Homo sapiens: one gene and its partner. The protein of the gene in region 1 purifies or fractionates together with the protein of each later gene. This does not show direct contact. Each region holds a gene or a part of one and is shown on either strand. Other genes may lie near its edges.

Region 1 (5,413 bases):
TATAGCAAAAGGGCTCTGATGCTCTAGCTGTTTGTCACAATGTAAAATGAAGACACCAGCTAATCTAGAAACAATGCTAACTTTTAACTCTAGCACATTCTTAAGATATACTTATTAAACAACTTTTGTGGTTTAGAAATAACCAAAACTAACTACTTTGACTCTTCTGGACATATTTTACTTTACAAAAGGAAATATAACAGACTAAATCTATTTATAGCAAGTAACTAATATTTCAATGTTTTTATAAAAACAATTCCCTTCAGATACTCTGATTAACCTCTAAGAGACATAAAAAAGTTGCAGCATTCTTTAATACCAATATTTTGCACAATTTGACATACAGCCAAGTTTAGCATTTCAAAGAAAAAAGTTTTTACAAAAAAGAAGAATGGTGACTCATTGAGAAGCTTATGTACCTAGTAAAGTTTAGTTTGTCTTGGATTCTTTAAAAAATTAGGCCCAGAATTTTAGTTATCCTAATTACTACCCTAATCAAATAGGATATATATGTGTGGATTCTAGCTAAAAGATAAAATATTTTGAATAAACATATGACCCACTGATTGGACTGTTCGCTTTGAATCTGTTTTGCTGGGTTTAGATAAGAAGACTTCAATAAAGCTAACTATATATTGAGTTCCACTGATTAAAAATGCAGTTTTAAAAATTTTGCTTTTGTGGTAAATTTCTGGAGAAATCATAAATGCAAAGCTCAATACTGTAAATACTGTACTGTTCACAGGTACTTGTTGGAGAAGTGAAATGTTTGTATTCAGACCAACAAAATTCTGACCTTTCAAAATAGGTTTTTAAAAACATTTTTTTGAAAATCAGTATTTGCTTTTAAACACTTAAAATGCCAATTTTTAAAAAATCCTTGCAGATAAATCTTAGTTTCTTTCAGTCTCAATTATTTTTTTACTTTCAACTATATTTCAACACAGAACCAGTTTCTAAATAAACATCTAATGAAGAACAGTTTAAGATAAAACTAGAGAGTCTAATAATACAACTTATACACAAAGTTTGAGTGTGATTTACCAAAATTCAGAATTTCTATAATAGTGGAAACCTTTTAGCTTAATATTCAAAACCAGCAACTTCCCATGTAACTAGATAAGCCAGGAGGATCAAACAGATTTAAGCATTGCCCGACTTCTTCTAAAGTGATGCACTCTTTTATCCTGGAAAAGACAGAAAGAGTCCTTTTACTTTACTGAAAATTTCTGATTACTACTATAGATCTGAAAGTTGTCAAAAACTTAAACCATTTGTTTTGGGTTTAAACATTATAAATAATGAGAAAAAAGATTATTCTTTTTGAGAAGCATTCTTGAACACTGGGATAACATATATACCAGGATGGCTAGTTTTATTAAACAGTTTAGTTAAAAAAGAAATCAATTAAAAAAAAAGAAATCCCATTAAACTCAGAAATAACAGGACTTAGACTCAATATCATTTTATGTACTTCTTAATTAATGATTTTGCAGTAATGTCCCAAAGACAGCTGGTAGAAAATGTAATTCTAAAAAATACTGTTTTCACTGACTGAACTGCATCTAATAGGAACCACGGCTTGTGAACAGCTCTCCAATCTGAAATTTCATGTTTTTAGGTTAAAAGATGTAAGTTTTGGCATTTAAAGACATATCATTAACCTGTGAAGATGTATTATTCTTTAGAAAGAAAGAGAAAAAATTTAAATACATGCAAAACTTTCTTTTCACTCTATGTTGCCTACAGATGTGCAGAGAGAAAAAAGTGAGAGGCCTTAAAAGGAGAAATGGGACTAAGCAAATGAGTAATAACATAATAGCATTTTATTTTCTACAAAGTTAACTGTGCCCTTTTCCTAGGACCTCAGTTTCACTGTCATATAAATAAAAGTGGCTTCTGGAAGTTACCTAATCTGTCAAAAGAGTGATATCCTATTTAAGTTAAAATCTAGAAAACTGGTCACCAACATGTATCTTCACAGGTCACGCAGGAAACAAGATTATGAAGGGACTACAGAATCAAGACAGTGAAGAGTGGAATTAGCTATGGAAATAGTAAATACATTCAAAAATACCTCATGCATTCAAATTCAATACAACAACATGCAGTCAATCAAAATAGGTCTAGATGTCAGACAACCACAGGATGCCAACTTCTGATTCGTCTCCCAAACAAGCAGAAAACTCTGGGAGTTTAAAGGGAGTCTTTTGTCTAATACCAGGTGAGAACTCAAGTTTCAAAACTCCTTCTGGGCTGGGCATGGTGGCTCACGCCTGTAATCCCAGCACTTTGGGAGGCTGAGGTAGGAGGATCACTTGAGCCCAGGAGTTCAAGACCAGCCAGGGGCAATATAGTAAGATTCTGTCTCTTAAAAAAAAAAAAAAAATCTTTTTAACTAGCCAAGTGTAGCGGTGCATGTCTGTAGTCCTAACTATTTGGGAGGCTGAGGCAGAAGGATCCCTTGCGTCAGGAGTTTGAGGTTGTAGTAAGCTGTGATTGTTACACTGCAATCCAGCCTAGGTGACTAAATGAGGTCACCTCAAAAAAACAAAAAACCACAGAAGACTATCTTCTGCTTTGAAAATCATTTAAGTACTACTGTAGACACCTATGTAATCATCAGAACTTTGGGCAAAGTAAGCTGATATACAATTTCAGTTCCTTCTTTTCTAAATTATACTATCTATGTAGAATGAAGCAACAAGAGAACAAATGTCAACTTTAAGTATGTTTACTCCCTGTTGCGAAGATGTTAAGAACTTAATTCTGCTATACGGCTCTACTCTTCTACATTATACAGGAGATCCATAATAATAACCCCTTAAAAAGGCTTAAGCTTCATCCTATATCCATTCACAGATGAAAAAAAAGCTAGTCTTTCTGTTTTAAGACACAAAGTGATGGTTAAACATTTCCTTTTGAATGTAAAGTGTGTAGCCAGTTTTGACAAATTCTGGCAGTTCCACTGAAGGTTAAATATGACTTAGCAATTCCATTCCCAAGTATATACGCAAGAGAAATAAGAACATATGTCCACGTAATAACTTGTACATGAATGTTCACAGCATTATTTCTAACAGTTAAAAAGAGGAAATAATCCCAATGTCTTTAACAGATGAATGGATAAACAGAATGAATAATAGCCACAAATAAAAAGAAATGAAGTTCTGATACGTGCTAGAATATTGATGAACCTTGAAAATATTATGCTGACTGAAAAAACCGGTCACAAAAGGCCACATTATGTATGATTCCATATACATGAAATGTCCAGGACAGGAAAATCCTTAGAGAAAGTAAGTAAATTAGTGGTTGCCTAGGGCTGCACAGGATGGGGGAAAATAGCAGGTGACTGCTAAGGTAGGGGGGTGATTTTTGGGGTGATTTAAGTATTCTAAAATTGATTGTGGTCATGGTTACACAACTTTGAATATATGAAAAACCAGTGAAATGCAAACTTTAAATAGGTAAATTGTATTACTGGTATCTCAATTATATATTTCAATAAACCTATTATTTAAAAAACACCTTCCCTTTACTAACCGTAATATTTCTCTCCCATTGGACTGACCAAGTTAGTTCTTTTTCCTATTCATAGACTTAGAACTACAGGGACCCAGAAACCTTTAGTCCTGTACCTTCTCATTTTAGACTTGTAAAAACTGGAGTCTTAATAAGATTTATCTATCCAACATGGATAGACGGCGGGATCAGAAATCAGATTTTTCTGGAATTCAACTACCCACATTCTCTTCCACTTTACCAACTCTGTCTGAATCAACCTCCAATTCTTTCTACTCAACATTTTACTGCTTCACTTTACCCCTTTTCTCCCTTCACACTGTTCAGGTATATCTTCTGAGTAAACCATTTCTTTTCTTCTCTATAGTCCAATATGCATGTATTTTTTTTTTTTTTGAGACAAGGTCTCACTCTGTTGCCCAGGCTGGAGTACAGTGGCACAATCATGGCTCAATGCAGACTCAACTTCCCAGGCTCAAGCAATCCTCCTACCTCAGCCTCCCTCTGAAGTAGCTGGGACTACAGGCGTGCACCATCACAACTGGCTAAGTTTTGTATTTTTTGTAGAGATGGGGTTTTGCCATGTTGCCCAGGGTGGTCTCGAACTCCTGAGCTCAAGCAATCCACCCATCTCAGCCCCCAAAAGTGCTGGGATTACAGGCGTGAGCCACTGCACCCAGCCAAGATCTGCTTTCTGTATCTAAAATTTTCTTTTACTATTTGGTCAAGCCAGTCAACTAACTCTTCTCTAGTTAACCCTTTCAATTACAAATTTCTGCTGAAGGATTCTTCCCTAAAGATAACTACATTATGTCAAGGTTCAGCAGCAGAAAATATACTGCCAGGTAAAACCCACTCTGGTTTACTGTGTTATAGTCAAATGCCAACAGTTAATTAAATGCTCTAAGAAATCTCAAAATACATATACCACAAGGAAAACAGATACTTTAAAGCTAACAAGTGTGCTTTTTAATTGTGCGTAACTGTTATATTCATACCTTGAAGTAGTCATCTTGAGTAACAACAGAGTTTCTCAGTCTGTTCTCTGGATTAAACAGACAAGATACCACCGTTTGTATGCTTCGGTCCACAGATTTCTGAAACACAGAAGTTTTCAGTAATGTAAAGACGACTCTTTCACTCACTCTTAGTAAGGGTTTTTTTTTGATAGTTTAATGAATATATTACTTTATTTCTAAAGAAATGCAAAAAATGCTAAAAGAGACTGGGAGTGGTGGCTCACGCCTGTAATCCCAGCACTTTAGGAGGCCAAGGCAGGAGGATTCCTGCCTCCTCCTGAGGTCAGGAATTCAAGACCAGCCTGGCCAATATGGTGAAACCCCATCTCTACTAAAAAAATACAAATATCAGCTGGGCATAGTGGCGGGTGCCTGTAATCTCAGCTACTCAGGAGGCTGAGGCAGGGAGAATTGCTTGAATCCAGGAGGTGGAAATTGCAGTGAGCCAAGATCACACCACTGCACTCCAGCCTGGGCAACACAGCGAGACTCTGTCTTGGGGAAAAAAAAAAAAAAAGAAATTCATAAAAATGTGATTCATAATTCTTACCACGTATCACTCAATATGCAAGTTTTCTGACAAAGATTTTAGAACCTTAGTGATAGAATACTGGTTTAAAAAGCTGAATTTGTTAAATCCCTAAGTGAACTCCAATGTTTCAAGAAAAAATATTCAGGACAAAACCTGAAAATTACACTGTAAGCTATTTTAATATTTATTCGCATTTTAAAATCGAGTATCAAATCAAGGAATTTACACTCCAATGGGACTTCAGTGTTATACATATTACCAACACATCAACTACTTCTACACTCCCGCTCATTTAAGAGAACATATGTGATTCAAGAGTGATAGTATTATTATGGAA
Region 2 (3,500 bases), on another chromosome or scaffold:
AGACTTCGGGTATATCCCTATGTGTCTGTAGGATAAGGTTTTTTTTTTTTGGTTTTTTGATTTTTTGGGGTTTTTTTTGAGACAGAGTCTCCCTCTCTTGCCCAGGCTGGATTGCAATGGCGCGATCTCGGCCCACTGCAACCTCCGCCTCCCAGGCTCAAGCGATTCTCCTGCCTCAGCCTCCCGAGTAGCTGGGATTACAGGCACCCGCCACCACACCTGGCTAATTTTGTATTTTTAGTAAAGACAGGGTTTCTCCATGTTGGTCAGGATGGTCTTGAACTCCTGACCTCGTGATCCACCCACCTCAGCCTCCCAAAGTGCTGGGATTACAAGTGTGAGCCACCGCACCCGGCCCAGGATGACGTGCTTATTATTTGACAGGTGCATGTGACACTGTGACTCCGGCTGTGACCTGATGGGGCCTCAGGGATGCGTCTGGCTCTGGCAGGATGTTTGTGTGTCACCGCGATGTTGTGTGGGTGTGTCTACCTGTGCCCTGCTCTGAGGGATTGAGTGTGATATCGTGTGTTTGTGCTGCGCTGTGATGGGTATGTGGTTCTACGACCTTCACTGTAATTCTCTGAGACTCCCTCCTGAACGTTGCTGAGAATGTGACAGTGGCCTGTGTCACCCTCTGGCTGGTTTCATCTCTGAGGCTGTGCAGCGGGGCGGCACTGCATGGCCTTCTGTCTGTCCCTGGGTGTTTTTGCCTGTGTGACGGTGTTGCGCGGTCAGTCAGGACTGGGCGCTATGGCAGCTGCCCAAAATATCTCCAGCTGCCTGCCGCGGGCCAGGCCCCATCCCAGGGTGGGGTGTGGGTGGAGTTTGGTCCATCCTTGCCCTTGGGAAACCCATGTCATGGAGGGATGGAAAAGGCCTGTGAAAACCTCCTCTGTGTCTCAGACGGTGTTGGACCTCCAATATCCACCCAGGATCTTACCCCCAAATCTAATCCCTCAACCCAAATCTGATTCATCAGCAAGTACCCTCACAGCTCCTAGCCCCATGGGAGAGAAAAAAAGAAGAGAAAACTGTCAAATACATTGACATGATTTCTTTCTTTCTTTTTTTTTTTTTTTTTTGAGACGGAGTCTCACTCTGTCACCCAGGCTGGAATGCAGTAGCGCGATCTCGGCTCACTGCAACCTCTGCCTCCCAGGTTCAAGCAATTCTCCTGCCTCAGCCTCCCGTGTAGCTGGGACTACAGGCGCCAGCCACCATGCACGGCTAATCTTTGTATTTTTTTTAGTAGAGACGGGGTTTCAGCATGTTGGTCAGGCTGGTCTCGAACTCCCAACCTCAGATCATCCACCCCCCTCAAGCCTCCCAAAGTGCTGGGATTACAGGCGTGAGCCACCGTGCCCAGCATGGACATGATTTATTTCTTAATTAATTTATTTATTTTTCTGAGATGGAATCTTGCTCTGTTACCCAGGCCGGATTACAGTGGTGCGCTCTCGGCTCACTGCAATTCCGCCTCTCAGGTTCAAGTGATTCTCCTGCCTCAGCCTCCTGAGTAGCTGGGATTACAGGCGCCCGCCACCACGCCCGGCTAATTTTTGCATTTTTAGTAGAGACGGGGTTTCACCATGTTGGCCAGGGTGGTCTCCTACTCCTGACCTCAAGTGATCTGCCCACCTCGGCCTCCCAAAGTGCTGGGATTACAGGCGTGAGCCACCGTGCCTGGCCTGGCTGTGATTTTAAAAATCATTATTATGGACATGACAATGGCTGATGTGATTTTTTTTTCTGGAGAACCCCAGGTGCACAAAATTATATTAATCAGACCCTGCCCCCCATTCACTCTCAAACTGCTTTATCTATTTTGTTCATTTTTAAACTAGTTATTTCTTTTTTTTTTTTTTTTTTGAGACGGAGTCTCGCTCTGTTGCCCAGGCTGGAGTGCAGTGGCGCGATCTCGGCTCACTGCAAGCTCCGCCTCCTGGGTTTACGCCATTCTCCTGCCTCAGCCTCCCGAGTAGCTGGGATTACAGGCACCCGCCACCACGCCTGGCTAATTTTTTGTATTTTTAGTAGAGATGGGGTTTCACCATGTTAGCTAGGATGGTCTTGATCTCCTGACCTTGTGATCCGCCTGCCTCAGCCTCGCAAAATGCTGGGATTACAGGCGTGCGCCACCGCGCCCAGCTTTAATTAGTTATTTCTAATGGAGGCATACACTCTCACAACTCACTGTCTCAACTCACTGTCCCAAACAAAAGCCAGAAGACAATGACCCCTATCTATCAAGAGGTTAATTAGAAGAAACAGAAAATAGAGGCTGGGCACAAAGGCTCACACCTGTAGTCCCAGCACTTTGGGAGGCCGAGGGTGGGAGGATTGCTGGAGCCCGGGGGGGTCAAGGCTGTGGTGAACCATGATTGCATCACTGTACTCCAGCCTGGGCAACACAGCAAGACCCCATCTCAAAACAAACCCACAAACAAAAACCTCACTTAACAAGAAAAAGAAAGAGGAAAGGAAGGAAGGGAAGGAGGGAGGGAGGAAAGAGGGAGGGAGGGAGAGTGGAAGGAAAGAAGGAAGGAATGAAGGAAGGAAGGAAGGGAGGGAGGGAGGGAGGGAGGGAGGAAAAATAGATACAGCAGACATAAGGGGGAGAATTGCTGATGACCACGCCCCAGCCTCTTCCCCAGTCCCTGGTGACAGGTCACCCACTGAGCATTTGAGAGGTGGACTTCCCTACCATGCTTCCAGGACATTGATAAACACACAATGAAACAAGGTCACACAATATTCCCTGCTTTGTAAATAGACTTTTCTGTCCCCCATTTTACAATACTCACCAGTCACCACCGTTTCTGGGAAATAAATATATATGTCCATCTTTTTCTCTTTTTTTTTTTAGAGACAGGGTCTTGCTCTGTAGCCCAGGCTGGAGTGCAGTGGTGTGATCATAGCTCACTGCAGCCTTTAACTCCTGGGTTCAAGTGATCCTCCAGCCTCAGTCTCCCGAGTAGCTGGGACCACAGGTGTGCACCACCACACCCAGCTAATTTTTTTTTTTTTTTTTTTTGTAGAGGTTGTGGCGGTGGAGGACGGGGGTGAGTCTTGCTGTATTGTCCAGGCTGGTCTCAAACTCCTGGGCTCCCTTGATCCTCCTGCCTTGAACTTCCAGAGCACTGGGATTACAGCCATGAGCCACTGCACCTGACCCACCATTTTTTTAAACACCTGCAGAGAGTTTCGTTGTTGGGTTGGACTATAATTAATAATGTGATTCAGATAACAGTGCTAAAATGTGTCTAATTCCTAGTTAGGAGAAGTGCTTTGAGAAAGAGTAATAGGGGTGGTGGGGGGAGGACAAATTTAGATGAGAGAGGACAGGGAGGATGTTTCAACTGAGACCCAAAGAAAGAAGAGGAGGAAGAGCATTCCAGGCAGAGAGAACAGGCAATGCCAGGGCCCTGAGGCTGAGACATGCCTGGTGTGTTTGGGAAAAATGGGGGAAGTTCAAGTTGCTGGAACACAGTAATTGG

What was found. The genes of interacting proteins can lie anywhere in the genome.
Region 2: the proteins of DAZL (region 1) and ELAVL3 purify together in Homo sapiens (affinity purification with mass spectrometry; one large-scale study listed by BioGRID and IntAct). This does not show direct contact.

What each region holds. Positions count from the first base shown.
Region 1 is NC_000003.12:16,587,527-16,592,939, forward strand, and holds part of DAZL (deleted in azoospermia-like), read right to left. Parts: intron 4,623-5,413; coding exon 4,524-4,622; intron 1,188-4,523; coding exon 1,134-1,187; 3' UTR 1-1,133. UniProt on the Homo sapiens protein: RNA-binding protein, which is essential for gametogenesis in both males and females. Plays a central role during spermatogenesis.
Region 2 is NC_000019.10:11,460,547-11,464,046, reverse strand, and holds part of ELAVL3 (ELAV-like protein 3), read left to right. Parts: intron 1-3,500. UniProt on the Homo sapiens protein: RNA-binding protein that binds to AU-rich element (ARE) sequences of target mRNAs, including VEGF mRNA. May also bind poly-A tracts via RRM 3. May be involved in neuronal differentiation and maintenance.